Regions from separate parts of the Homo sapiens genome. Here all the other regions are linked to region 1. The links come from fine-mapping of genetic effects on gene expression. A gene starts in region 1. Each other region holds a variant in brackets. All regions are shown on one strand. Distances are from middle to middle.

Evidence for each region.
Region 2: its variant is fine-mapped to the expression of GRAMD2B in atrial appendage (GTEx, PIP above 0.99).
Region 3: its variant is fine-mapped to the expression of GRAMD2B in whole blood (TOPMed, PIP 0.97).
Region 4: its variant is fine-mapped to the expression of GRAMD2B in substantia nigra (GTEx, PIP above 0.99).

What each region holds. Positions count from the first base shown.
Region 1 is chr5:126,420,098-126,427,872 of GRCh38, forward strand. It overlaps GRAMD2B (GRAM domain containing 2B), which reads left to right and starts at 3,312. Exons shown (of 14, transcript NM_023927.4): 1 at 3,312-3,592. The coding sequence starts at 3,510. RefSeq lists a silencer at 3,287-3,416.
Region 2 is chr5:126,462,742-126,470,516 of GRCh38, forward strand. It overlaps GRAMD2B (GRAM domain containing 2B), which reads left to right. Exons shown (of 14, transcript NM_023927.4): 2 at 2,685-2,804; 3 at 6,936-7,047. Among named protein-coding and RNA genes, the nearest start is that of GRAMD2B, 43 kb to the left of the region's middle. The variant G/A (reference allele first, on the strand shown) is at 3,594.
Region 3 is chr5:126,483,890-126,491,664 of GRCh38, forward strand. It overlaps GRAMD2B (GRAM domain containing 2B), which reads left to right. Exons shown (of 14, transcript NM_023927.4): 10 at 513-635; 11 at 1,797-1,884; 12 at 2,984-3,088; 13 at 4,910-5,003. Among named protein-coding and RNA genes, the nearest start is that of GRAMD2B, 64 kb to the left of the region's middle. The variant C/G (reference allele first, on the strand shown) is at 5,498.
Region 4 is chr5:126,447,567-126,455,341 of GRCh38, forward strand. All of the region lies in intron 1 of GRAMD2B (GRAM domain containing 2B), which reads left to right. Among named protein-coding and RNA genes, the nearest start is that of GRAMD2B, 28 kb to the left of the region's middle. The variant G/A (reference allele first, on the strand shown) is at 4,590.

The DNA.
Region 1 (7,775 bases):
TTCTTTGCTTTTAAAAACAAGAATTTGGATTCCCAGAGACTTAGAGGAAGAAAAATAATGTCTCTTATTGGTACAATATCAAAGGGCATCCTAAAACATATTTTAGGCATAATCTTTTTATCTTGTCTCCTCTCACATATCATAGGCATAATCTTACATCTCTATTTTGTCACATGGCAATGACATTTCCTTTATTGTTTATCTGCCGTGCCTCTTGAATACTATATTCCATATATTACTGTAGAATAGCCCCAAGAATAAACAAATTAGGCAGTTGTTTAACAATGCCTTTTAAACGTAAGCAAACATCAGTAGGTAAAATATTGTAGCTTACTTGCTCCTTTCTAATTCTTCCACTCTAGGAAAAGACTGATATTTTCCCTACCAGCCCTGCCTTCCACTTCAACCTCACCTGCTCCTTCTCACTTAAAACCACACCATTGGAAGTCCTTATACCATGCACTAAAGAACTTTAAGCTATTTTAGGGTAACTGAGTGCTCTTTATTTGAGCCATAAGCCCATGCTAAGACTGCTTTGAATACTTGCCCTTACTCATGCATTAAAAGAGGGCTGACCATGATTTCTCAAAAGGGTAAACATAGACTACCATATGACCCAGCAAGTCTACTCCTAGGTATATATCCAAAAGAAATGAAATCAGGGACTCAGACAAACATTTGCACACCCATGTTCATAGCAGCATCATTCACAATAGACAAAAGCTAGAAACAACCCAAGGGTCCATCAACAGATAAACGGGCAACCCAAATGTGGTATATACATGCAATGGAATATCATCCAGCCAAAAAAAAATGAAATTTGGATATATGCTATGACATGGATTGACCTTGAAAACATTACACTGAGTGAAACAAGCCAGACACAAAAGGAAAAATATTGTATGATTCCACTAATGTGAGGTACCTAAAACAGACAAATTTATAGAGACAGAAAGTAAACTAGAGGCTACCAGAGGCTGGGAGGAGGTGAGAAAGAAAGAGTTATTGTTTAATGTATTTAATGGGAGTTTATGCCAAGGATGATAAAAAAAAGTTTTGGGTACAGATAAGTGGTGATAGTTAAATAACATTGTGAAAGTGTTGAATGCCACTGAATTATACACTTATTAAAATGATAAATAGTAATGTTATGTATATTTTACCACAATAAATAAATTACTTAGCGGGGAAAAGTCAGTCTGATCTGAGCTCTGTAATGAGAAGTTGGAGTGCACCTGAGATCTGAGAGTCCTCATCCAGAGTTTGGGAAATTGACAACCTCATCTCTGTTCCAAACCTATCCCTATTCTGAGGAGGGTGGGGATCTAGAGGTGAAGGCATCAGGAATGTCCCCAGGAAGAGGCAACTATGGGCACCAAGGAGACAGCCTTCAAGCTTTCAGGTCACCCAGAGTTTTCCCCATCCCACCTAGCACAGCTCCTATAGCAAAGCAGTCAGTGGTCAGGAAAGAAAAAGAGAGAGAGGCCTGACTAAGCCAACTCTTCTGGAATTTATGTAAGCTTTTTCTTTTACTTATTTTTCAAATGTCACAAACATCAATTTTGGAGCAAGCAGGCTACAAAAAGATGCTTTTGTTCTCTCAGCCTAATGATATATATGTAAAAAGAGAAGGAATAAGAAAACTTTGGAAAGAACTTGCACCTCCAAAATGTTTGAAGTTATTTAGAAGGTTAGGTGTTTTACACACACATACACCCTACAAACTACATACATACATGTACATACTATGGTTGTATAGTCTTTGTAATACTCTTAAATCTAAACTTTATTTTAAGAGAAAAATGAAGGACTTGCAGCCCCAGAACATAGTTAGTCGTTTTTTCCCAGGCATGTCATGCTCTACTGTTGCCACTTGTAATTGTTTTGAAGTCAAGTCAGGCTTCCAATAATAACGTTTATATTAATTATTCTAATTGTCAACTACTCCATTGCAAATTAGAAAACCACCAATACAAATGTCATTTGCTATAACAAGTCAATGTTTATACAAGCTTGCCCAACCTGCAGCCCAGAACAGCTGTGAATATAGCCCAATACAAATTCATAAACTGTCTTATAACATGGTGACATTTATGCACGGATTTTTTTTTTTTTTTTGAGACAGGGTCTCACTCTGTTGCCCAGACTGGAGTGCAGTGGTGCATCTTGGCCCACCACAACCTCCATCTCCCAGGCTCAAGTGATTCTCCTGCCTCAGCCTCCCAAATAGCTGGGATTACAAGCGCCTGCGCCACCTCACCCAGCTAATTTTTGTATTTTTAGTAGAGATGGGGTTTCACTAGGTTGGCCATGCTAGTCTCGAACTCCTGACCTCAAATGATCCACCCGCCTCGGCCTCCCAAACTGCTGGGATTACAGGCGTAAGCCACCGTGCCTGGCCCCTGCACAGACCTTTTTTAAAGCTCATCATCTATCCTTAGTGTTAGTATATTTTATGTGTGGCCCAAGACAGTTCGTCTTCTTCCAATGTGACCCAGGGAAGCCAAAAGATTGGACACCCCTGATTGAGAACAATGCCTGGAACTTTGTAGCTCTCAAAAGTTTGTTCAATGAATGAATGAGTGAATGCTTCCAATACAAAACCTTAGAACAGGCAAGTCAAAATGTCACCAAAAGGTGGGAAGAAGAGGCATTCACGGTACTGGTTGAGTGCATAGTAAATAAGGTACTTGCACAACTATGGGCAACAAAGAGACGGCTTGGGAATTATCAAACACCAATTTTGATTTTGATGAGAACAGTCATAACCCAATATTTGAAGATTTTGATGGTTGCTTCTTCTTTGCCCCTCTAACCACCCCCCCCACCCCAGAACGATGAAGGGTTAACCAAAACACCACCAAAGGCAACTACTTATTACCTTTGTTATTCCCACATAAAAAATTGAGCAGACCTATTGTTTAAGCAGAAGAGGCAGTCCCTCAATGAAGCAATATCCTGTTTGAATAATTTAGGATGGGGCATAGGCCAGCCCACACAGCGCATTTGTGTGACAGGGCGTCCCACTCAGACGTCTCCATTTCCGGTATCTAGAGCCGGCTGCCCTCTAAAAATCCCCCTGTTACAGTCGGGATAGAAAACAAAAAGCTTAATTTACCAGGAGGCTAAACAGATTGTGCCTTCTTAGGCAAATGTTCCACCTGCTTGGCCAATTAGCTTCCTCTCCCGAAAGACTCGTTCAACAGGTTTCCTTTTTCTCTTCTCTGCCTCCTGGGTTGGGGAAAGAGGCTGTCACTTCGCTTCGACCCTCCCCTTCCCTCCCTCTCGGCTTTTCCACAGTGGGTCGGACCAATCGCGCCCGCTCCGACGTGTCCAGGTCCGCGGCCCCGGGAGCTTGGCGCGGCCCGGCCTGGATGCGCTGGGCGGAGGGTGCAGGGGAGGGCACGGCGCCGCTTGCTTGGCCTGCGCACCCGGACCTAGAAGCCGGGACGAGCCGGGGCAGAGCCAGGCGCGCGGAAGTCTGAAGGTGCCCTCCAGACACGGCCCCGATGACTGAACTACAGCAAGATGTGGAAGACACAAAGCCTGCGAAAGTGCTCGGGAAGAGGGAGAGCAAACTTGGCTCAGCCCAGTGAGTATTCTCAGCTGGGACCCATCCAAGGAGGTGGGAGGAGCGCAGCCTAAACTTCTCTGCCCCGGGACGCATTTTGGGTGGATGCGGATTTCTGGAGCTCCTATATGGACAATCTTGTGGCGCGCTCTCTCTGTCTCTCACTCTCTCTCTCTGTCTAGATATTCAGTTAAGGAGATGGTTTAGATTGATTGAAAAGTCTACTGTAGGATTTAAACAAATTCTCTTAATTCAAAACTCACTGGATGTTGGGAAAATAATTTTGTAGAAAATAAGCCTAACCACATTGAAGCTCAAAGTCCCAACACAGCCCTTCGTTTAGAATGACCATTTTCACAAATTCATTTTAGTTCAGCAAATAATTGAGTATCTACTTGTTCAATAACGATGGGCAATACAAGGATAAATGTTATTTTGGATCTGCCCTTCTGGAACTTCAAGAGCAGAGTGGGGATGGGGGAGGCACAAATGAATATTACTGTACTTCAAGGGACTTTGGTGACCATTGCCACATTAAACACACAGACAAGGTATGATAAAGAGTTTAGCCTATAATTGAGTCTTCTCTACTTTTAAAATATTTATCTATTTTGCAGTCTTTGGTAAAATTGGTTTGGGAGGAGAGGTTGTTTTTTTCCTACAAAGTGGTATTTTCTAAGCCTACTGAAGTCACTTCTAATTCAGTCTATGATTTTAGACACTAACCCTTCTGAGCTCTAAAACTCTTGTTCTGGTATCAGGATATGAGTAATTTAGGAAGGAGGGATATGTATTATCATAAGGTTATACTGATGTGATAATTCCACTTTGAAATCATTTTAAGTTGCCAAATTTTTGTGCTTAGAAACCCGGTCTAACTTCTGTTTTGAACTTCATAACTTACATTAATTATCACTAGGCTCAAAGTCTTGTTGAAGTCTGGGTGTCCCCATGGACATTTCTTCTAAGAGGATTAGAATGACTTGCTCCTCACAATTTCCCTGCGTCTGTAACTGCACCCATGTAGACCTCATCACCTAGAGCCTTAGCCTCCTAAATAATAGTAGCTGGCACTTACTGAGAATGCTTACTATGTGACAGGGAGTGTGCTCAATACTTTAAATGCATTCTCACAAAGAATGAGGCAGGTGCTATTATTTCCATGTTGCAGATAAAAGCACTGAAGCTCTGAGAAGCTAAGCAGCTAGGCAGAGTCACAAAGTTAATAAAAGAGCAGCCAGGATTCAAGCCCAGGTCTCCTAACTTTACAGCATGAACTTAGAACCACTATGCTGTACACTGGTTCCTCTGTTCCAGAATCTATGATGGCCTTCCATGGCCTACTCTTAAAAATAGGCTTCTCTGCCAAGATTTTAAGATCCTTCATGATCTGGACCCACACAGACCATTGCAACCTCACTTCCTAATACTAGTCAGCATGCACATCTTTTATAGCCAAACAATCATACTAGCAGCCCTATACTTAAAGGAGTGATATGCAGCACTCCCATGTTCATTGCACATTACTCACAATAGCCAAGATATGAAATCAACCTAAGTGTCCATCAACAGATGAATGGATAAGAAAATGTGCTATATACACAAGATACGAAATCAATCTAAGTGTCTATCAATGGATAAAGGGATAAGAAAATGTGGTATATATACACAATATTATTCAGCCTTTAAAAAGAAAGATCATTTGTGACATGGATGAACCTAGAGGACGTATGTTAGACAAAATAAGCCAGGAATAGAAAAACAAACACTGCATGTTCTCACTTAAGTGTGACATCTGAAAAAGTTGACTCAGGCCAGGCAGGGACTGTGGCTCATGCCCATAATCCCAACACTTTGGGAGGCCGAGGCTGGAGGATCACTTGAGCCCAGGAATTTAAAACCAGCCTGGGCAACAAAGTGAGACCCTGTCTCTACAGACAAAAAAAAATAAGTTAAGCATGATGGCGCACACCTGTGGTCCCAGCTGCTCGGGAGGCTGAGGTGGGAGAATCTCTTGAGCCCAGGCAGTTGAGGCTACAGTGAGCCATGTTCATGCCACTACATTCCAGCCTGGACACAGAGTGAGACCCTGTCTCAAAACTAAAATTTAATTTAATTTAAAAATAAATTTAGAAGTTGGATTCATAGAAATAGAGAGTAGAATGGTGGTTTCCAGGCGCTGGAAGGTAGAAAGGGTGGGGAAGGAGGGAATAGGGAGTTGATCAGAGGGTACGAAGTTTCAGTTAGGAGGAATAAGTTTTGAGTTCTATTGCACAGCAAGGAGATTAGTGAATAATAATATGTTGTATATTTCAATATAACTAAGAGTAAATTTCAAATGTCTCACCATAAAAAATGATAGGTAAGCAAGACCATAGGTATGTTGCTTGATTTAATCATGCCACATTGTATACATATACCAAAACATTACCCTGTACCCCATAAATGTAAACAATTATGATTTGTCAATTAAAAATAATATTAATTTTAAAATAATTTAAAAATATATTTCTTATAAAATTCAAAAAAAGAAGTGATATGCAGAAGGAATAAGGAACTGGTATGCCAAACATAGGAGCAAATGAATCCCCTTCTGTCTTCACTTTTCCTTACTGCTATTCCTTTCCCCTCTCTCCTCTCTCTTCATCTACTTCTAGAAATCAACTCAAGTTTTCCTTCATGTGAAGCCTTCCTTCATTACTGGCCATACTCATCTCTTCTTTACCAGTGCTCACCTTGTACATATGTGGCTTCCGCCTCATAGAATTTATCTGCTGTTATTATGACGATTAATTAACAATTAATGTTTATTGACAGTTTAGTTTGTACAAAGTACTGTTTCAAGTTGTTAACATATATTAATTCACCCACTAATCCAGTTGTATTAGTTATCTTTCCTCTAAATAGGTTGCAGACTCAGATTACATTTTTCCTTATTGAATTTCTCAGAGGACCCAACCAACAGTCACTTTCAAGTACCATCTGTTGGTGAGCTGGGGAAGCTAAGACCCCAGACCCAGTAGTTAAGATATATACTGTAATACGCTTGTAGCTGACATTCAGCTTGACTATGTCAGGGGAAATTCTATGTTTAAAATTTTTCTTAATCACATTTCCTATCAGTAGCGGTTAGAATTTCTAGGTACATTTACTTGCCCGAGAGCTGTGGCTAATTTGTTCATCTTTGTGCTAGAAGGTGAAGCTGCTGATACACTCATCACCGAACTGCATATTTGATTAAAAAATACAATGAATCCCTTTCTGACCAAGAATAAGTACTTTAGCTGTATATTTCCTTTTGAGATCCTAATTTTCTCCACTTTTATTACCTTTTTCATTCTGAATTTTATGTTCCCAGTACTTTAATAGTCGTAGCGTAGCCAGACTTTTTTTGACACACATTTTTGTTTTCCTTCAAGAGGCCAGAATACCCTTGCTCTAACTTTTGTTTGTTTGTTTGTTATTTAAGTTCTGGGGTACCTGTGCACAACGTGCAGGTTTATTACATAGGAATACATGTGCCATGTTGGTTTGCTGCACCCATCAACCCATCATTTACGTTAGGTATTTCTCCTAATGCAATCCCTCCCCCAAACCCCTACCCTTGACACACATTTTATGAAACACACCTTTATTTCTTAAAGTTTCTTCTGGATCTCATTTAGTAATATCCAGGTTACTTTTAATGAATTTCAACAAGTACCCAAATACCCAAAATGATGCTGATATATTCTGAGCAAAAGTTATCTTGATTCATGTTTCAAATAACGAATTAAATTACATGTAATATCATTCAAATTGCAATTTGAATTTTTAACATTTGAACTTTAATAACTTGAGGTGTAAGAATTTTAGAAATATGTCCAACTCCATACGGATGTAGGAAAAGGATAGATGTGGGCAACAAGAACATTTACCTTAAAAGGAAGCGCTCTGGTATTATCAATAAAGGTTGGTTATTTTTAGTATATATTTTTACTTAAAATAGTGAATTCAAGTAAAAATAAATGACCGCAGTGGCAACATCTCTCATCTAAACTATCCATCTTTGTGCATGGCATGTTGGAGTACTTGACAAACAGAACACAGATTGAAGTTGGGAACTGATCCTGAATTAGAAGCAAGAGAAATAAAGGCAAATAATTGTTGGACCTAACTCAGTTTCTTAGTGCTTACTTAATTCCAAACTTTGAAAGCTCCCATT
Region 2 (7,775 bases), 43 kb after region 1:
ATGCCTAGTGAGTTATAAAATCAGCAGGCAGCATAGAGACTTTTAAGCAGTGTGGAGGATGTGTCCCCTGGCTAGGGCCTTCAAGGAGAGAACCAGTGCTGAAGACAAGACACAAGTTGAAGGAGAAGTGAAGTGGAGAGTATGTAGAAAAAAGCTACTTTGAGTACACTGTATGTTCCATCCTTGAAAGACATTGTTTTAGTAGGACAATATAGAGGCATGCACTGTAATCTTTTCAGTGCTAAGCTAGGGGTCCCGAAACAGGACCACCTTATGTGGTTAAGCACTTAAGTCACCTGCACTGCACACAAATGCCTGACCAAGATGGGTCAGGGTCAAAGAGGAGCTGAAATCTAGCCTCAGTTTTGCTGCCTTCTGACCTTGGTGCTGGGCTGTTTCTGCCAAGAGCAAGAAGCACCTTATCTCTGCCAGGAGCACCTTTTGCAGAGTGGCTCTCTGTACACAAAGATGCTGTATAGGACAGCTCCAGCTCTCCCTCTAAGTCTTCATCTGATCCTGCATAAAATCCAGTAAATATCTGAATAAATGTTGAGATGGATTATTGAAGTTCTATACCCAGTCTCTACTTAAAGAGGGCTTCTCAAGTAGATTTCTGCCTGAATCTGTTGAAGAAAAGAGATAATGTGTTTGTGTCTTGGGGGAAGCGAAAAAAGGCAGAGATGTGCTTTAAGGCCTCTTAACTATTCTAAAATTCTTTGAGTCCACAAATTAAACTTGGTGCTAAGTTTAATAAAGTCCAATTATTATTTTAAACCAAAACAGGGTTTTCCTAATAATATTTCAATGCCTCAGCCTTCCATGTACCTTTGTCACATAATGCAATTCTGTTATGGACTGAGCCCTTTTAATGTATGTAACTGTTTTAAGTACTTGGAGAAAAATTGAAGAAATAGAAGGTTGGACCTCTGTCCTCAGATATGTATCTACTAGGAAAAGAGAAATGCTTACCACAAAATTAAGAGCGTCAACCATTTGGCCGGGTGCAGTGGCTCACGCCTGTAATCCCAGCACTTTGGGAGGCCAAGGTGGGCAGATCACCTGAGGTCAGGAGTTCGAGACCAGCCTGGCCAACATGGCAAAACCCCGTCTCTACTAAAAATACAAAAATTAGCCAGGCATGGTGGCGTGCGCCTGTAATCCCAGCTACTTGGGAGGCTGAGGCAGGAGAATCTTGAGGAAGGAGAATCTCTAGGAGGCAGTGGTTGCAGTGAGCCGAGATCGTGCCACTGCACTCCAGCCTGGGCAACCAGAGTGAAACTCCATCTCAAAAAAAAAAAAAAGAGCATCAACCATCTGTGGGTGTTATTAGTTAGATACCCTTGTCAGATATACTGGCCTTGATTCTGACACTACAATAGGACTCCTCGCCTAGGCTGCAATTTTCATATGCTGTGAAAAGTGATCAGCAAAGCAACCACACAGCTTAAACTATCCAGTGGCATTTCCTGCCTGCACAGTCATATGCAGGTGAGACTACCAAATAGGTGGTAAATGAAAGTGAAGATTAGCTAATCTCTCATAGCAATGCCATCTTAACATGTCTTTCTTTAGGCTCAGTCTCCATGGAGTCCTCACATCCTCAGAAGTATCGTTTGTGTTTTACTGAGCTGACACACCAAAGAAGTTCTGATCCATAAATAACATTTTGTATTCTTCCTTCAACATCCCTTCCTTTCCCACTTTCCCATTGGAAGTGGTTTCCCCTGCTTCCCAAGAGATCTTCACCGGCCGACTGAGGGAACTCACCTCTGCATCCCCCAAGCTGGTTGTCCTCTGTTTGTTGGTTCTATGCACAAACCTTCTTGACTCACCTTCCCCTCTACTCCCTTCCACCTTCTCTTTTACCAAGGTCAGACCTAGTTTTTCCAACGCCTATTGATCATGACTGTAAGTCAACACTATCCTAGACCCCGTGGTTAAGACAAAGATGAGTAAGATTCCCACTCTGCCCTGGAGCTCTCACACTGAAGAGTTAATTATGAGGATAAATGGATGAGTAGGTGGTTGGGGGGATGAATGGAGAGAGAGAACACAAAGGTTTTGCAGACAGACATACTAAGTTTGAATCTCAAGTAAGATAGATGCTAGCTCTCTGAACTTAGGCAAGATAGCAAGAGCCTCAGATTCCTCATCTGTAAAATGAGGGTAGTAATTCCTACCTAGTCTGGGTGGTTGTAAAGATTAGAGACTGTAAATTGCTTAGGGAACTGCTTGGTTAAACAACATGTAAGTGACATAAGAGAAATGCAAACAAAAGGGGTGGGGGTTCCCAGCAGGAAGGCTCACACCTGCAGGAGGCCACACGTGAGCGTGTGTACATGTGCGTGTGTGCTTGTGCAGGGCGCTCCCAGCCTCCAGGTGATCTGCTGCCCCAGCACAGCCCATGCAGAGCAGAGCTGGGCAGCACAGACCTGGGAGCCAGCAAGTCCACACAGTCTGGCATTTACAAGTGAAACAGGTGCGACCTGCAGCTACTGCCGTTGGGACACCAGGCAAGGGGTTAGAATGGAGATTGGGAAAGGGCCTCGCTGTCAAAGTTAACTAGCCTATCAGTGAGGAATGAAAATCATTCCATTCTCTAGAAAACCATGTTACTTCATCGTTTTCCTTCCAGCTACCTCTCTCTGAATGTCTAAAGTGAAGCGGTTTCCTTTCTTCTTCAGCTCAGAGGCTGAGAATGGTGTGGAGGAGAAAAAGAAAGCCTGCAGGTCGCCAACAGCCCAATCCCCTACCCCATCTGTGGAGGCGGACTCCCCAGACCAGAAGAAAATCATTAGCCTATGGTAAGTCCTCCGTTGACTCTCTTTGTTCTCTTTTGTCTTTTGGGGAGAAGGCGTTACAGGAGGAGCAGGGGTTTTTTGTTAAGAGTGAGGATGTATTAATACTATAGACAAATAATACTCCTGAGAAAGAATGAGCATTTTTCCCTGATACCCAGGTAGCATCTTTTTCTCCCTCCTGCCCCAGCCTTCAGCAGAGCATCTGCACCTTTCTGAAAGCGCTGATTTTGCTAAGTGATGAGGCCAGGGTGGACCCCTCTCTGGCATATGTTTAGAAAGCTGGGAAGGCTGGCCAGGTTGGAGTGTCTGCCCGGCCTTGGGTGTGCACACCTGGTGTCTCACTTTCCTAGGGGCCGTGAAAAAAAGCCGAGGAAAAGAATCCCCATCCCGGGGACCCACCAGGCCACCAGTTTCCTGTGACAGACTAAGAGGGAGGGTTGGTTTGGTTGTGGGGCCGGAGGGGAGAGGTGGTTTTGAGATGTGTAGCTGTAGCCTCATCTTTCTCAGAGGCACCAACTACCATTTGGTAGAGACTAAAGTTGGTAGAGACTAAAGTTGCTTTGGGGCACTTAAAAGATAGCGGTTAAACCAACAGTGTGTGATGGGTGAGTGCAGTTTATCTAAACTGAGTACAGAAATCATTGTGGTCCTTCACCATTATTAGAACTTTGAGAACTGCTACCTTCTACTTCTTTTGGTCTTTGCTAAAAGATTATTAACTCCGCTTTTTGCTTCCTTCCTGGCTTCCCAGCCCATATCTTCTCTCCAAATCTATGCTTCATTCAGGACCAA[G/A]AGTAAGTCTTAACTCCTCCCGAAATTTTCCTCTTCTGACTCTAATTCCCAATTATCTCTCCATCTTTCCTGCATGCTGTTTTGTGGCATCTCACCTTTTTTTTTTTTCCAGTCGGAGTCTCGCTCTGTCATCCAGGCTGGAGTGCAGTGGCACATTCTCAGCTCACAGCAACCTCCGCCTCCCAGGTTCAAGCGATTCTCCTCCCTCAGCCACCCTGGTAGCTGGGCCTACAGGCATGCACCACCATGCCCACCTAATTTTTGTACTTTTAGCAGAGACAGGGTTTCACCATGTTGACCAGGTTGGTCTTGAACTCCTGACCTCAGGTGATCCACCGGCCTTGGCCTCCCAAAGGGCCAGCATCTCACTTTAACAATTTTTTTTCCTCTAGTTGTTTCCCCTCAAAGCCTCACCTAATGCTTCTCTTCACAAAGGCACAAGGCACATTATTTCTCATGTCTTTTACCACTGTTGGCTGACTACAGCAGGCACCTTAAAAACACTGTTGGTTTTACTCCAACTTCCCCAGGCTTCCGTAATAATAATACACTCTCACAGGGCATGCTTGCTAAACTTCATGGGCATGCGGTTCCTGCAGTTGGAAAGGGCCCACACTTGGTTTAATGTTCCCCTCTTGCTATCCAGAAATGCTTAATAATTTTTATGTAAGGGGGCCAGGCACGGTGGCTCACACCTGTAATCCTAGCACTTTGAGAGACTGAGGTGGGTGGATAACTTGAGGTCAGGAGTTCGAGACCAGCCTGGCTAACATGGTGAAACCCCATCTCTACTAAAAATAAAAAATTAGCCGGGTGTGGTAGTGCATGCACTCAGGAGGCTGAGGCAGAAGAATCGCTTGAACCCAGAAAGTGGAGGTTGCAGTAAGCCGAGATTGTGCCACTCCAGCCTCAGCAACAGAGTGAGACTTTGTCTCTATATAAAAATTATTAATTAATAATTTTTACTTGTTTTTATTAATTAATTAATAATTTTTATATAAAGGACCCCACATTTTCATTTTGCACTGGGCTTCTTGTCACCTGTAGGAAGTGAGAATAACAGGGTTGAAAAGACCCAAAGAAATCCATATTGTATACATACATACCCTGTCCACAGGGGCCAGTGTCATGCAGATGAACCCCCTTATTGCTTGTGCCTTTTGAAATTATCAAGGGTAGAGCCACCCTACTCGTCATATTTGCTTGCAGTCCATGGATCTTCAAAAGGTCGGATCATTTCCTTGCCCATTCCATTAACATTTATTAATGGGAATCAGTAGAGGTGATGAATTCAAATCTGTGAATAATATAAATAAAAGGCAAGTTGACATTTGTACAGATAATTTTATTTTCAAATAGAGAACAAATGTTTTTTCATAGCTTCCAAAAAAATGTAATCCCTAGAATTCCCAGGGAATTTATGTCTGTGAATAGCTTCAATGGCCTGTATCTGAAATTAAACTCATTTACCTTGAACTGCTGAGGGGTATTTGCCCTGTGATTTCAGCATTGTGGAATCATACACTGTAGTGGCTAGAAGAGGCCTAGGACATCATATAGTCCATCTTTTCACAGCTGAGAAAACCAGAGCATAATTCTCTAACTTCAGTCCTTTCTGTTTCTCTGTGACACCCATGTACCACCTGAATTACTTCAGATTGTTCTTAAATCCACTTTGAACCAATTTTTTTTAACTGAACCTCATTTTAAGGAATAATATTGTGAAATCATGGATTTTGTGTGTCGTTTCCTCCCAATAAACATTAAAGCAACTTCATAATCATAAAACTTATTCATATATATAACTCCAAAAATCATCTATGCATTCTACTTTGAAATGACTGCGTTTAGCCGTAGGGTTGAAGTTACGTACAAATGTACACATCCACTAAAATGGAAAACCAGGACTAGAATCATCTTAGAAGGAAACTCTGGAGCTCTGACCTCTGTGCTTAACAGGAAAAAGGAAGACTTGGCTTCAAACATGTTTTGTGGTTTCATTTTTTTTATTCTGATTTCACTTTTATTGTATTCCCACTCTGGGATGTTTTGTCTCTTTTCCTCATACCCAATTCTTGCTTATCCTGTTAGGCCCAGCATTTTAAGCCCACATTATTCTACTGTTTTCCTCTTCTATTTATTTACTTTTTTTAATTTAACTTTATTTTTTTGAGACAGAATATTGCTCTGTCCCCCAGGCTGGAGTGCAATGGTGCAATATCAGCTCACTGCAACCTCTGCCTCCCGGGTTCAAGCGATTCTTCTGCCTCAGCCTCCCGAGTAGCTGGGACTACAGGCGCCCACCATCATGCCCAGCTAATTTTTGTATTTTTAATAGAGATGGGATTTCGCTATGTTGGCCAGGCCGGTCTCAAACTCCTGACCTCAGGTGGTCCGCCCACCTTGACCTCCCAAAGTGCTGTGATTACAGGCATGAGCCACTGTGCCCGGCCTGTTTTCCTCTTCTCTTACCTCCTGTTAGACTTATTGGCTCCATACCTTCTCCTAACTCCTATAATATGTATTTTTTTTGGTGCTAAATCATGTACTGCCTTTTTAAAAAAGTGTTTGATGCATGCATACACAGGCGCCTTAAGGATACAAACTGTGTTATGGGCCCCAAGACATTTAATACAATGCCCTACTCAATTAATACTTGTTATATATTAGTGGAATTCTGAAACAAAAATATTCTTTGATTGAACTATAGCTGCAATATTATTTAGTAATTTGCCTCAAGTACTCCTTTTTAAATACTGATTAAAATAGTTTCGTTTTAAAATGATGTAATTATTTTCACAACTTGATTGTTATTTCACCCTCTGTAAGTTACTATTTCTACAGTTTTTGATTACAGCCTGATGAAATCATTGCAGTGTCCTAAAGCATGTGCTGTGTAAATATTCTCAGAGTATCATGAATGATTTTTGATATCCAGAAAAGAAAAACAAATGTCAGGTTTTCTTAGAAGATAGTATAATAATCAAGATTTATTACAATAAATTAATGAAAAATGTATCTCATAGGCCAGGTGTGGTGACTCATGCCTGTAATCCCAGCACTTTGGAAAGCCGAGGCAGGTAGATTGCTTAAGTCCGGGAGTTCAAGACCAGTCTGGGCAACGTGGTGAAACCCCATCTCTACAAAAAAATGAGCTGGGCATGGTGGCACACACCTGTAGTCCCAGCTACTCAGGAGGCTGAGGTGGGAGGATCGCTTGAGTCCTGGACGGGGAGGTTGCAGTGAACCGTGATCATGCTGCTGCACTTCAGCCTGGGCAACAGAGCAAAACTGTCTCAAAAAAAAATTATCTTATAGACACCCTGGACTTTCTTTCTTTAGGTCAAAATCCAGTTTTGATGGTGCCTCTTTAGCAAGTGATAAGAACGACTGTAAAACAGAAAGCAAAAATGACCCTAAGACTGAAAGAAAAAAGTCTTCATCTTCCAGCCAGGTAATTTGAGAATGGAATTTGTATTGTCTTAGAGGGTGACAGGGCTACTGAAGCCAGTGACAAGAAGGAACCCAAGTATGCACCTTCCTGCTGGTCAAGACTAATATAGGTATAGAGTTTAGAGAATTTAGAAGAACAAACAGGCAGCAGTTCCTCCAGTCCATTTTTCAGCAACGTTATATTCCACAACTCATTTTTCAGCACATTGCATGGTAGTGAGTTCCATGCTGTGGCCTCGAACTCTGACAGATACCCAGAGATCAGGGACCAACACAAAGTCATGTGCTTATCCAATAATTGGCAGGACAAGGGGAGTTGTGACATCCTTGTACTGAAATTGAAGAGTCTGATAAGGCACCTGCCTGAATAGTAGTAGGCCAGCCAACTGCACACAGAGGAGTTAGACCTTTGAACAGGGTCAGGATTCTTCTCCAGAACTAATTTTGGTTCTGCTTTAAAATATACCCAGATAGGAAACAAAGCCTAGTTCTATGTCATCAGAGAGTGTGATGCATGTGCTGGGGACAGGAGTTTGGGGTTTTTCTTAATTCTTCACCCCTCTAAATACTTGAATATGTGTTTCCTAAGAGCTAAACCAAAAACCATCGGCACACCCAAGAAATTTAAATATGAAATGTATTAAAATATTATTAATACAAAATTCACTTTTGAATTTCCATAGTAGTCCCAGTAATAAATATCCTTTATAAAGGTGTTTTTTTCCTCTT
Region 3 (7,775 bases), 64 kb after region 1:
CACAATCTCGGCTCCTGCAACCTCCACCCCCCGGGTTCAAGCAATTCTCCTGTCTCAGCCTCCTGAGTAGCTGGGATTACAGGCATGCGCCATCAAGCCCGGCTAATTTTTGTTATTTTTAGTAGAGACGGGGTTTCACCATGTTGGTCAGGCTGGTCTCAAACTCCTGACCTCGTGATCCACCCACTTTGGCCTCCCAAAGTGCTGGGATTACAGGCGTGAGCCACCGCACCGGCCTATTTTCTTCCCTCTTATTTCAATAATATTTTTAATTGTTACAGCTGAATTATCCATGTGAGTTGGTTGGAAAATGAAAGACTATCCTTATATCACTTTATTACTTATTTGCTTAAGCATTCAATTTCAGCCCCAGCCACCACAACTAACTTGTGAGACCATCCATTCACATTCTTGACCATTATGCATGTTAAGGGATTGATTTACTTGGAGATTAATCCTGTTTTTAAATACATTGGAGAGAACACTTACCCAGCTCTGTTTTGGCTTAGTAGATTTCCATGCGACAGAATCCCAAACAGTTCTGAATGTCTCCAAGGGAGAAGCAAAGCCAACTCGGGCAGATGCCCATGTGAACAGAGTACCTGAAGGAAAAGCCAAGAGTCTCCCTGTACAGGGTAAGGAATGGATGTCTCAGGGGGGTGGGTTTAGAAGGATTGGAGATGTCTGTTTGTAACTTTTTTTTTTTTTTTAGACAGCATCTTGCTCTATCACCCAGGCTGCTGTAGTGCAATAACATGATCTTGGCTCACTGCAACCTCTGCCTCTTGGATTCAAGCGATTCTCGTACCTCAGCCTCCTGAGTAGCTGGGATTACAGACGCATGCCACAATGCCTAGCTAATTTTTGTATTTTTAGTAGAGACAGGGTTTCACCATTTTGGTCAGGCTAGTCTCGAACTCCTGACCTCTAGTGATCCACCCGCCTCAGCCTCCCAAAATGCTGAGATTATAGGCTTGAGCCACCATGCCCGGCCTATTTGTAACTGGGTTTCACCTTATGACTGCTTTTCATATTCCCTTTCCTCCCTTTGTATTATAGGTCTTTGCATATTAATTCACTTATTCTTTTAGCAAACAGTACCCAGTTCCGTGCTTACAGTGGGGGATACAAAAGTGAATAGCCTTCATGGAGGTCACTTCATGATTCTGAATACATGAGATTATCTTTCAAAAATTTCTGTTACTGTAACCCCAGCACTTTGGGAGTCTGCGGTGGGAGGATTGCTTGAGTCCAAGGAGTTCAAGACCAGCCTGGGCAACATAGTGAGACCCTATCTCTACAAAAAAGTTAAAAATCAGCTGGGTGTGGTACATGTTTGTAGTTCCAGCTACTTGGGAGGCTGAGGCAGGAGGATTGCTTGAGCCCAGGAGGTCAAGGCTGCAATGAGCTGTGATCACGCCACTGTCACCTGGGCAACAGAGTGAGACTATCTCAAAAAAATAAAAAATTTTCCAGTAAAACTCAAATTTCTTATTTACTAATTATTCTAATAACTAGCTATACTGGTAAGGGAGCAAGGATATTGTTATATTGTCCATCATTGATTCCAGTACAATGCTTGACACAAAGAAGGCTGTGGATAGGTATGTAATCAATGGAATGTGTTGGAAGGAATTGTAACCACTGGTTAAAATGACAACTGGGAGACTTGATATTTTCTCTGATTTCTTTTACCTGGGAACAATTACCTCTCTCAAGTACCCCATAGGGATATTGCTGGATAAAAGAAGTGTGTTATGGTTTTAAACAGTTGTTTTTTGTTTTCCTCCCAACAGGTCTGTCAGAAACTGTTGGAATCTTACATAAAGTCAAGTCTCAGAAATGTCCGATGCTTCACCATATTCTTATATTCTATGCAATTGTGTAAGTACATGAATTTACTGTGAGTGACTAAGAAAATGATTCCATTCGCTAAAGGAATAATCTCTTCACACTGCCAAGACCTACTGTAAATCTCAATTGTCTGAAATGTGACCTACATCTTTACTTTGACAATTTCTGTCTCCTACTTCAGGTTTTTTTCCTTAGGCTTAGGTCACATTTTCATGGTTGTGCCAAACCCTGCAGAGGACTAAGTTCTGAGTGGGTACCATTAGTTGGGAAATTGCTCTGTGAATTATGAAGCATCTTTACCCTTGTTATTTTTTTTACCTTATTTTTTTAATTGACATATAATCATTGTAGGTATTTATGGACTACATAGTGATGTTTTGATACATATAATGTATACTGATCAGATCCGGGTAATTAGCATATCCATCACCCTTATCATCTCTTTGTGTTGAGAACATTCAATATCCTTCTTTTAGCTATTTGAAACTCTATCATTGTTAACTTTAGTCATTCTACAGTGATATTCAACACCAGAACCTATTCCTTCTATCTAGCTATAATTTTGTTTTGCCATCTGTCCCATGTCCCCTGAACAGGGGCCAACACAACTTGAAAATGTTGTCCTCATCCCCTTTACCAAAAATGTAGGCATAGACTTTTTTAACTTCTAGCGTGTAACCAATTGTTCTTCTGAAAATAGCCTGACCCAGTTCTAGGCTGTTCCTCCCAACCAAGGAAAATATGCCCAGTCTGGTTTCCAGATAAAGGAGGGAGTCACCAGAGAACATGGCTAAGATCTGCCCAGGCTCTTCTGGCAGAGGACGGTAGTACCGCAGGGAGGAGGAACACTGGCTTGGTACTCCAACTTGGGTCTGGCTCTGACCAGTGCTATTAGAAGGGCCATTATTTGCAAATTAAGGGACTTGGGCTAGAGGATTTTAAGTCTCTTCTAGCTGTAAGTTTTATAACAAGCATCAGCCTGTTTAAAAAGGATGTTTTTAAAATCTTTTTACCAAGTTATTTTGGAAAATACCTTGCCTCGGGTGTACCACATTGGCACTGAGTTGTTTTATGAACATCAGATCCTGGCCGTTAACCTAACGAAAGTTTCTCTTTCATCCGTTTCCAGTGTCTGTGCACTAATCATCTCGACCTTCTACATGAGATACAGAATTAATACTCTGGAGGAGCAGCTGGGGTTACTAACCTCCATTGTGGACACCCATAATACTGAGTAAGACGATTGCCTCTAGCTGTCATCTGCTTGCCATTCTGCTTAATATAATAATTGACCTGAACTTAGCATCCTTCTTAGTAAACATTAATTGGAGATACATTCTGTATGTGACATTTTGTTAAGTGTATATGTGGAAAGTAAAAAGGTAGGAGGGTCTAGAAATGAATGACCTAACCCTGTACTATTTTGGAGTTGTGGTAATGTTGCTAGTAATAAGGCAAGAAACAAGCCTAATTTTACATTATCTTGCTCGAATATGCTAAGATGCAGTTGTGACCTTGCCCCATTTATTAAACTACACAAGTTTACCTTAGTAAAATGGCAATAAATCAAGACACTCAGAGAAAGAAGCAATTCAAGAAACTCAGCACATTTTATCATGTATAACTTTTTATATTAACTCACTTATTTGCAAAACTCTTGACCACTGTCAAGATCAATGTGACTAGTAATTAATTGAATGTGTCTGTGAAGATTTTCCATCAGTCTTTTTTTTAACATGCCTGGCCTAATTAAACCTTTTCAGACATAGAGCTCTTTTCTTTAAACCTATTTACAAGAAGCTTTTGACACATTGCCTAAAAAGTGAAATAATTTATGCCATGTTAGAAAGTGTACATTTAGCCCAAGTTTTTGAAGTAGAGATATTTCCTGACAGAGTATTCACCACATGCTGAAGGCTCTATTAGAATGGATACATACACATACAAATACAGATGATTTTTCCTCATTATATTTTCACCATAACCTTAGAATAGAACTGTTCCCATTTTACAGATGAAGAAACTGAGACTCAGAGTAATAATTAGTTTAATGTCTTACAGTTTGCAGATTCAGCTGCAGGTCTATATAACTACAAAGACCATGGGCTCCTCAGTCTACCAGTGGCTCTCAAATTTTAATTTGCATCAGAATTATCTAGAATTGTTTAAACAGATTTCAGGGCTCATCTCCAGAGTGCCTGATATAGTAGGTCTGGGATGAGGCCTGAGAATTTGCATTTCCAGCAAGTTCCCAGGTGGTGCTGATGGCAATGGTCTGAGCTCTATACTTTGAGAAATACTGTGTTATACCATTCTAGGACCTTTCTTTACTCCATAGGAATTACCTTTAGGTGGCTTACATGTATGCAGGCATACAGGTTATTTTTGACCCATAAATATACACTTGAACTAATAAAATACAAAAGCCTAATAAACAGTTTGGTATGGATTCATACTCTGCCCTTAGTTTCTCCCATCTTGTTCAAAAAGTTAATATTGGCATAGAGATAAGAAGTGACTCCAGGCCAGGCACAGTGGCTCACGCCTGATTATGAGACAAGGGCAATTATAGTTGTATGATAAATCTCAAAGAAGAAACTACAAAAGTCTCGTGTTTCAAGGGACATTTGATTAACTAGATAAGGACATTCCTAAACTTGTAAAGTTCTAGTATAAATAGCTCAAAAGTACAATAATTCTTGTAAGTTTATGCTCTGGTGGAGACAGAAAGGATATTAGGGGTTAATAAAAGGGTTCTAAGAAACCACGTGCTTGAAAATAATTGCCTGATTTTTGTTTAGAAGCCGAAACACACCATATCCACTTAAACAAAAATAGCTTAAGAGATTTCCCGCTGAGCTTTTAAGAATTAGTTCCCTAAACATCTAGCCTGGAGTTGCGGATTACTGCAGGGCTTTGTCTAATATTAACAAATGAAATGTTCATTCTCTTCTATTATAAACCAATTTTCTGTTCAAATAAATTTTAAATGTGTTCATTCCACTTCTTTCCTTGTCATCCCTGCCCATAATAATTTTTCTCTTTTTTCTTACAGACAGGCAGCACCATCTGGCCTGAGGTCACAAGTACAATTCAATGTGGAGGTTCTCTGTCAAGAGCTTACAGCTAACATAGTGAAATTAGAAAAGGTGACCTATTTCTTTCCTGTGTATGGGGGCAGTCACAGTAGTGCCTGTTGGTTGCCCTAGGTCAGGTCAGGGATTACACACTCAGACGCCGTTAGTGTGCCGCAATAAACCTACATGATCAACCCTGGCTAGGGGCTTTTTATAGTAAATGTGGAAGAATATTTTTTATTTCCACAAAGAAATAGGTCTTAATCTCATTTTCCTTGAAATACATAGTCTTGTAGGTCTTTTGTTCTTCCTCCTTGATTAGACATATTACTTAATAGCACAGGGCCCAGTGGTAAGTGACTACTGACATCGGAGCTTAATGTAGGGACATAGTAGGGAGTGAACTGGAGACCAACCACTGGCTTGGCCAGAAAGTACAGCCCCAACTCCACCAAGGCTGACTGTTCCCATAGGTAAAATATTGCATGTAAGTCCTATTAGAACCATGGAAGATAGACGTCATTGTTCCCTATCTGATAGGGGAAGAATCAAGAGTTTCAAATTAG[C/G]TTGCTGAAGGTGACACACCTAGAAAGGCAGCAGACGTGAGTCTGCTGAGAGAGCATTAGAAGAAAAATACATAAATAAAGTCAGCAGATCTGGAACCTGAACCAGGCCTGTCTGACTGCAAAGTTGTGCTTAGAAGCTCTCTGCTTTACTGTTCCTCAGAATTCAGCTTTAGGCTTTGTTGATAAGGCCACAGATGTACCTTTACCTCAAAGTATCTACAGTCCAAACAACGCTAGGGCAAAACTGTCCTTAGCCTGTGGCATTCTTAGAAGGCAGCAGGAGGGTGAGCTGGAGAAGAAGATAGGCATGCCAGAAATATCCCAGAAATAAACCTGATTTACATGTCTTATTTTCTTCTCCTTTATCTGATAACTACTTTGTTTTTACCCTAATCCTTCAGGAAAGGCTTAGAGAGAATTCAGTGTTCAATTACAACTGCTGTCACAAACGCCCAGTATCTGGTAGCTTTACATCATAGTACAGTTATGCTTACTTGGGAAGACATATTTCTTCATATTAAATACAAATTAGTAAAATTTCATATTAAATACAAATGAATAAAATTATCTTTGTTTTCCTACACTCAGTGTTAGTTAGTATTTAACAGCTAAAGTATTAAGAGCAAAGGAGTTTCCAAACTTATGTTCTAAACCAAGTCAGGTCAGAGAATTCATATTAAATCATTCTATTTATGGGCAAATGTAGAAAGTTCTTTACATCGAGAATCAACCTAGAGAAGGTATGAGTTAGCTTTCTTCCTTTCTAAAACATTAGTTTCTGAGAATTGAAGATAAACGATTTTTTTTAATGAAATGCTTACAAATGTTTGGCTTTCATGCAACCCAGAGAATGAAGTGGTATTAATTTTCAATTTTGTTCACTCTTACATACCAGTGATATTCTTTGGATTAGAAACACATGGGATCCTGCCGCCTTCTTTTGTGTTTCTTCCCACTCTCCCGCTGGGCCTGGCCGGGACACCACATTCTGTAACCAGGGAACTGAAAACAGAAGAGCTTGTTCACAGCAGGCAAACAGCCTCAGGTCTTGTGCAGGGTTCAGACAGCTTAGCAGGGAGGCCGGGGAGGTTTACAGGAGCACCAGTGGAGACTACCTTTGTCTCAAAGCAGAAACTGATTCAGTAAAAAGTGGATTTGGGGTCAAAATGCGCGTGTTGATGTTCTAAAAAGTTAGAAGTTGCACACATTGCTCAAAAGAATCTAAGTATTAAAAAAGAGGTACCAGGCCACACCCGTGCTCTTTTTGATTCATCTGCACCTTTCCTCAGAGGCAGCTGGGCACTAGCGCAGCACAGCCTGCCGGTGAAATAGCAGCTCCATGCTGTTGAAGGTCTTATACTCCATACCAGCAATTCCTTCTTCTCACCTTCGGGGGCCGGTGATGTCTAAGCCTCATGATCTTTCTCTGCTTATAACTTCCCTATTTCTGTTCATGGCATCACTGCTCTTTCAGTCATCCTCATTGGAAATCTAAGAATAATTTTTAACTCCCTCTTTCCACCTGCCACTGGTTGACTAGTTGGCAAATCCAGTGAAGTCTGTCTTCAAATGTCTCCTCAAAGTTTCTTCCCACAGGTACCATCCTAGTCCATTCAGCCTTCCCACTACCAGTCAGATAGTGTGAAGCTGGATCTCATTGTGGTTTTTGCTTGTATTTTCCTAATTATTACTGAGGCTGAACATCTCATATATTTACTGGCCATTTGGGTTTTCCTCTGTAAATTGCTTAATTCTCTCCTTTGTTTTAATTTTGGGTTTTGTGTGTGTGTCATCGTAGGTGTGTTTTGTGGATTTGGGATGTCAGTTCTTTGTTTTATTCCTTTTTCTACCTCCCACTCCTGTTTTTCCATTTATCTTTGGTCCTGAGGGATACATGAGGAAGAAACAAAGCAAGAAAGTTGGGGAAGAAAGCAATGTCTCTTACGGGAACTGAAGTAAACACTTATTTTCTTAGTTCTGGAAGTGGAATTAATGGTGGAACAGTATAGTAGAAAGAGCATAAATGTTGGAGTCAGGCCTTTGTTCTTATCCCTGCTCCACTGCTTACTACCCACATAACTCATCCTGCTACTTCAGCTCCCTGGCCCTTGGTTTCATGTGTAAAGCCTGTCTTTGTGTGGTGTTGTATGGCTCAGGAGCAGGCATGCCTTTGCTGGCACTTACATATCAGATCCCCTTCCTCCTCACTCACCTGAGAACACCCATAGGACATCACAGACTGTTCCTCTAAAAAACAATATGTTCTTTCTTTTCGTCT
Region 4 (7,775 bases), 27 kb after region 1:
GGCAGGAGAATGGCGTGAACCCGGGAGGCGGAGCTTGCAGTGAGCCGAGATCGTGCCACTGCACTCCAGCCTGGGCGACAGAGCAAGACTCCGTCTCAAAAAAAGAAAAAAAAAAAAAAAGAAAGAGATCAGAAAGCCTGGCCTTTAGAGCTGATTTAAGGAACATGAAGTCCTTAAGGTAAATGAATTGAACCTTTTTGTGGGGATACAGAGATGTGAAAAGACCAGGATCCTGCCCTCCAGAGGCATATGGTCAAAGCAGGGCAAAGACAAGTAAACAGTAGCCCATTTATAATTTTTTTTTTTTTTAAAAAATAGTCTCACTCTGTTGCCCAGTTTGGAGCACAGTGTGGCATGATCTCGGCTTACTGCAACCTCCGCCTCCCAGGTTCAAGCAATTCTTCTGCCTCAGCCTCCCAAGTAGGTGGGATTACAGGCATGCACCACCACATCCAGCTAATTTTTGTATTTTTTAGTAGAGAGAGGGTTTCACTGAGCAGGCTGGTCTCAAACTCCTGACCTCAAGTAACCCACCCGCCTCAGCCTCCCAAAGTGCTGGGATTACAAGTGTGAGCCACAGCACCTGACCCCATTTATAATTTTTAAATAAACCACATACTAAAGTGATACAGTTGCCATGACAGTCACAGGGTACTGGAAAGGAGCACAAAGAAGAAGAGGTCAGTCCTTAGGACCTAGAGGGGGTTGGGGAAGTTGCCAGGTAGGAGGTGACCCCATCAAGAGCTAAATCTTGAAAGATAAACAGTGCTTGCAAGGGACCACAGAGAAGGCATGGCAGCCCAGGAGGAGGGTGCTTGGGGGCAGCATGACAAGAGGTTCAAAGCCAGAAAGGGAGGCTTCACATTGCAGAGGACCTGTTTTCTGTACTCATCTTCAGCTTTATCCTGTAGGCAACAGAGAACCAAAGGGGTTTTAAAGGAGGAGAAGGAATGATATGATCATATTTGGGCTTTACAAAGATCACAGAGCACAGTGATCTTCCATATAGATGGAAGGAGGAGGGGTCACATATAACTCAAATGAGGTAGGGAGGTATAGTGGTCCAGGCAGGAGGCATTAAGGACCCTAGCTAAGCCAACCAAATTAGGGAAAGAAAAAGAGGGGACTTAACTGGAAAATATTAAGGAGGTAAAGTCTACAGGTCTTGGTGTCTGACCGGGCTTGGAAAGAGAAGGCTAGTCATAGTATGAGAGTAATAGAGGCTTCAGTCACTAAGATTGGAGTTGTGTGGGCCCTCAGCGAACTCATCTTTGTTTCCTTATTTGTGAAATGTGGATAACACCTGTCTTACATGCCGGCCTCAAACACCTGTCTAACACACCTGTCTTTCATGCCTGCATGAGGGTTAGTGTGGTATCATGGTGTCACGGGTATGAATGCTTTTTGAACGGCAAAGCACCATGCAAATATAAAGTCATCCGGGAAATCCAGTAGAAAGGAGTGGCAAGGAAGAGGGAAGAGGCAGAGATGTGTTTTCCAAAGCGATGCGTTTCAAGTCCAGATAGAGAAAATGCATATTTGTGGTGGGAGAAATTAAGGACAGTAAATAAAGATGTCAAATATAAAATTAAAATCTTTTAGATCCACTGCTTATTTCCTTGAAAGTGGTACTGTCATGTACAAATTATATTCAATCTAATTCTTCTATCCCGTAAAAGTTAGTTATATTTAAAATATTGGGGTAAACATTTTAACAGCAGTGAGGAGCTATCACTAGTTCCACAATTATTCCATATCTTGATAGTTGTAATTAAAATCATGTATATTTTTACATAATAACAATATGGAATAATTCTATATTGTTGACACTAACATGACAAACCACATGGATAACTTCTAAGGAAAGCCAAATACAGATAAGAGACATTTACATCCTTAGGTAGATTAACACCTTTGAAACCTCACAATCTGAAATACTAAAACTATACTCTCTTATTTTTCGCCATGGGATATCATGAGCTTCTTTTTCCTTACGTATGTCTAATATGAGGGTGTTTTGGTTAAATCAAAGCCTTTTACATAAAACTGCTTTCACCAATATATAGATATATTCCACTTTTTTAAAGTGACAGTGTCTTTCTTCTCTAGAAGTTGAGTCCCATTAATTTTTTTTAGAAAAAGAATCCTGAGCTGTAATAATACTTGGCATTTAAGCAAAGAGAATTTTCACGTGTGCTGCTGATGCCCGTGTTGATTCACTTGGTGGGATATGGCATGAGACCGAAACCTGGCCTCTGGGAGAGTCCTGTGTGTCACATCCTGTGAACACCCTACTCTGTCCTCATATGTGTGTGGCTCTGCACTGTAAGATCAGAACACAGGAGACTGAGGAAGTAGCAATGCAGAGTTTGAGTGAGGGAGAAACAAAGCGACAGGTTTCTGGAACTATTTTGGACTCCCGTAGTAACTTTTAACTCTGCTACAATGCCCATGTACTTGGTCTTTTAAGCTCTCTCTGGCTTTTGATCTCTTTTTTTTTTTCCTCCTACATGAAACAGAAGACAGAGTTACAGGAAATGAAGGGTATAGGAGGAAAGAAAGAGCTGTAGTTATCGTAGATGCCAGAGTGGTAAGAGGCAGCTCTTCTTTCAGGGGCTTAGCTGAGGGCCAGAGTAGTACAGCTCGTCTCCACGGGGGTGGAGAGGGGTGCCTCAAAACAAAAGTGAACATTTCTCTCTTCTAAGTCGGCTTCTAATGGCCCTGGTTTTTGTCTGTTTTAACCTAAAAGGTTATTGCACTATTAACAGGTAAAAAATTCTCTTCTGACCAAATACATGTATTTCTAGCATAATATATTCTCTCTCTCTCTCTGGATAAAATTTATTAGCATATCAGCATAAACATAATTTTTGTAAGGTCAGACAAGAGATTTGAAGTGTAATTCAAGGGGAATTTGTATTAACGTAATGAAACATTCTGCTGTGAAGTTTACTAGCAATGCCTCACTCTGGGTTATCATTTCTGACTCCTCCCATTTCCTTTCTCACCCGTCACCTGGCCTTCATTCATTCTCTGTCCTAGAAGATAACCTCTAAAACCAGTGACAGTCCATCCAGCCTGCTGTTAAAAAAAAAAAAAAAAAAAAAAAAAATGTTGCTCACTCTGTCCCGGCCAGTCTGGCTCTAGCGTCAGCTCAAAGGGGCCCAGGTACAGCTCGGGCTGCCACTCCATAGGGTGCAAGCTGTAAGCCTTGGTGGCTTCCATGGGGTGCTAATCCTGCAGACACACAGAATGCAAGAGTGAAGAAGTCTTGACAACTTCCACCTAGATTTCAGAGGATATTTCAGAAAGCCTACATACCCAGGCAGAAGCCTGTCGCGCGGCGTAGCCAACACAAAAACTCTACTAGGGCAGTGCTGAGGGGAAATATGGGGTTGTGCCCCCACACAGAGTGCCCAACAGGGCACTGCCTAGTGGAACTGTAGGAAGGGGGCCACTGTCCTCCAGACCCCAGAATGGTAGAGCCTCTGGCAGCTTGCACCCTACATCTGGAAAACCCACAGGCATTCAACTCCAACCCGTGAGAGCAGCCAGCGAGGCTGCACCCTGCAAAGCCACAGAGGCAGAACTGTCCGAGGCCTTGGGAGCCCACTCCTTGCACCAGTGAGCTCCATAACTTGATCTTGAACTTCCAGCCTCCAAAACCATGAGAAATAAATTTCTGTTGTTTACAAGTATGTTAGTCCATTTGCATTGCTATAAAAGAATACCTGACACTGGGTGATTTATAAAGAAAAGAGGTTTAATTGGTTCACAGTTCTGCAGGCTATACAGGAAGCATGGTGTAAACAATCTCAAAAGAGATTGTTTTGGAGCTTTAAGACTTAATGACTGCCTTGCTGGGTTTCAGACCTGTGTGGGGCCTGCTTCCCCTTTCTTTTGGCCGACTTCTCCTTTCTGGAATGGGAATGTTTATCCAGTGCCTGTACCACCATTGTATCTTGGAAGTAAATAACTTTTTTTATTTTACAGGCTCATTAGTGGTAGGAGATGAGTCTCTTACGAGACTTAGGACTTTAGACTTGATGCTGGAACAAGTTAAGACTTTTGGGGACTTTGGGGAAAGTATGATTGTATTTTGCAATGTGAGGACGAGATGTGGGGGGCCAGCGGCAGAATGATATGGTTTGGATATTTGTCCCCTCCAAATCTCATGTTCCAGTGTGATTCCCAGTGTCAGAGGCGGGACCTGGTAGAAGATGATTGGATCGCAGCAGTGGATCCTTCACAAATGGGTTTGCACCATCCCCTTGGTGATAAGTGAATTCTCACTCAGTTAGTTAATATGAGATCTGGTTTTTTGAAAGAGTCTTGGACTTCCCCTTCTCTCTCTCTTGCTCCCACTCTCACCATGGGATGTGCCTGCTCCCCCTTCGCCTTCCACCACGATTGTAAGCTCCCTGAGGCCCTGACCAGAAGCAGATGCCGGCACTATGCTTCCTAGACAGCCTGCAGAACTGTGAACCAATTAAACCTCTTTTCTTTATAAATTACCCAGTCTTGGGTATATCTCTATAGCAATGCAAATGGACTGACATTCTTGTAAACAACAGAAATTTATTTCTCAT[G/A]GTTTTGGAGGCTGGAAGTTCAAGATCAAGTCATCAACAAATTCAGTGTCTGGTGAGGGCACATTTGCTGTTTCATGGATGGCTGTATTTTGTTGGATCCTCATGTGGTGGAAGGGACTAATGAGCTCCCTACAAGGGCATTAATCCCATTCATGAGGGCTCTACCCTCATAATCTAATCACCTCCCAAAAGCCCCACATCCTAATGCCTTCACCTCGGGGGTTAGAATTTCAACATGTAAATGTTTGGTGGACACAAACATTCAGACCATAGCACCTGGTTTCCCTGACATTACTCTCTTGCAATACCCATCTATCAAAAAATAGACAATACTTTTCTCCTGAGTATCAGGTTCATAAACTGTCACATCTCAGGAAACCATGGCAGGGCCTTTTATTCCCTAAATTCAGAAGCACCCTTATCCGTCCATCAGTAAGTCTAGCCCCTCAGCCACTCTATTCCTTATCATTCTACTCTCCTGGCAGTTCTCATACTACAGACACCACTTCTCCTTGGCATTCCTGATATATAAGTCAGTTCTTTCCTTTCTCCTCCTTTGTATACTAGTAGTAGAACCTTTTATGACTCTTGCCTGAAGTTCTCATCCTCACAGTTTTGTTCTCTCTTTGATCTTCTGTTCCTTTAACATGAGGTTCCAAATTGGTTTCCTTTATGATAGACCTCACTAAGTAATGAAAAATTTCAGTTTCTCTAAGTATGTTTTTCTGGACTTTATGCCCTATTCTTTTGCATTTCTATCTTTTTGTTTGGGTAAGCTTTTCATTCTAGTTAAAAACTAGTTCTTTCCTAAACACAGTCTTCAGAACAAAAAACCTTAATCAAATAGATATCCTCTAATATATCTTAGGTATATGAAAAGTGGCTCATTGTGACATCCAATTGCTGGTGGAGAAGAGCCCCAAAAAGGAACGAAGATATGAGGCCAAGGTGGGCAGATCACCTGAGGTCAGGAGTTCAAGACCAGCCTGGCCAACATGGTGAAATTCTGTCTCTATTAAAAATACAAAAATTAACTGGGCATGATGGCACATGCCTGTAATCCCAGCTACTTAGGAGGCTGAGGCAGGAGAATTGTTTGAACCCAGGAGGTGGAGGTTGCAATGAGCCAAGATCACGCCACTGCACTCTAGCCTGGGCAACAGAGCAAGACTCCATCTTCTCCATCTTAAAAGAAAAAAAAAAAAAAAAAAAGGAATGAAGACAGAAATTCAAAAAAATGCTTAAAGTCCCTGCCCCTAAAAAGGTTATAGTCTAGTTTGGAGGAGATATATTCAGTATATGTTTTTAGGAAGTTTATTATGCAATGCAAAATAGCATTCATGCACTGAGGCTGTAAATAACAAAGGAGAATTCACTATCAGCAGCATCAATCTTCCTTGGCTGGAAACTAGAAAAGTCCATTGCTACCTCCTTGCTGCATTTTACAATTTACTTTGTTATTTTCCAACTGTGCTTGGCCTCAAAATGCTACTGCTGTGAAGTTAGTTTGATGAAAACAGTCTTTTCAAGTTTCCATATGGTTTCAAATTATTACTCATCTAACTAATAATCAGTTTGAAAAAATAAGTTTGCACACAATGCCAATTCAGCAGTGGGGAAAATTAAAAGACTGGCCTTTTTCTCTTGCTCCCACCCCCTCTTCCAAAACTTGTCAGCCACACTTGGGAAGGAGTTCATGAGGTAGGTTTTGAGATAAAATTTAAGCCCAAGCCCTTTTTAAAATGCTAATTGTTTTCCTGTATTGCAAATAGATGTCTAGGCAATAAGTATTAATTGCATAATTTCTTATATTATTGATAATAAAGAGATGGAAGTCAGTATAAAAGTGGGAATGTAATTGGATTTGTTCAGAATCTGGTATGATGGGTTCCTGTGTGTAGAGAGGAGGGAGCAGAGAACTGAGAATCAACACATAGAGGAAGGACAGAACATGATATAAGTGCGGCCAAGGTAAGACGACCAACATGGCTGGAACAGAGAATTCCTTTTGAAAAGAAGAGGGAGATTGCAAAACTGGAGGGTCTTGGCTCGTGTCCAGATGCCTCGATCTGGTGCTCAATAGAAAGGCATTGTTAACTCTGGAGCAGTGGCATGACATAATGGAGGCCGTGTCTCAGGAGGATGAATCGCACATTGATGTCCCAGAATCTTGGAGAGGAAGATCCTAGAGATCATTGCTGTGCGTTCCAAGGGTGGAAGGGAAATCACTGCAGCTGCACCCACTGTCCACTGTTGACTTTGTCTTAAAGCAGTGACAAAAGCCCTTGGGAGCTGTTTGGTTGCTTTTTTAAAAAATCAAGCTAGTTTGAGTTGGGTTTCTGTCTCTCCAAAATCAGAATCTTAACAATTAATTGCTTTTTGGAGTTATATGAGTTGCCTTAGGCTTTCAAAGAGACATAATATTTTAGGAAAACAGAATTAGGAGTAGATATAGAGGCAGGAATGAATCACATGATTGTTCATGGGACAATGACTTGTCCACTTTCATGAGAACAGAGGGGTCTTCTTTGAGACCATATTAAAGAGGTTACTGGAGCCAGATGGTGGCCTCTGCTAAACCATTTCTCTAGCCCTGCTATTGCTGCTGGTGTTTAGGTATTCATTTTTGCTACAGCAGTGTGCTTGAGACTCAGTGGAATTAGTTTCCAAACTGGCGGAACCCCTCCTCTGCAAAATCTGATATTCTTTTTATTGTTGACCTATTTGGGGCTCCTTTGGTTTTTTTAGATACAGTTTTCTACCTGCTATCAATATACATCTATTATGTCTAAAACTAAATTTACAAAATCCTTCCCACCAAACTACAATTTCTCTTGTGTTCCCTGTAACTGTTAGTGGCAATGCCATCCTCTCCATCCCCCAGATAACCTTGGTGTTCTTGGATGTTCCTCTCCATTGCGTGCTCTCCCTAATCATTCCAATGTTGTCTCTGGATTTTCCCTCCAACGCAGTGTCTGCTTCTTGCCTTCAGATTCACTCCCTACCTGCCTTTCTGTTTTCTCTTGTCTCCAGCTTCCACCCTCCCTTGTTCTTGTACAAATAGGAATATAGTCCTCCAGAAGCCCATAGCTCATCAGGTCCATGATGTATAAAAGGTGGGCATTTAATATCTTGTCATTTTATTCCTTCTGTTTAAAAATCTTCAATTAATACCTACCACCAGTC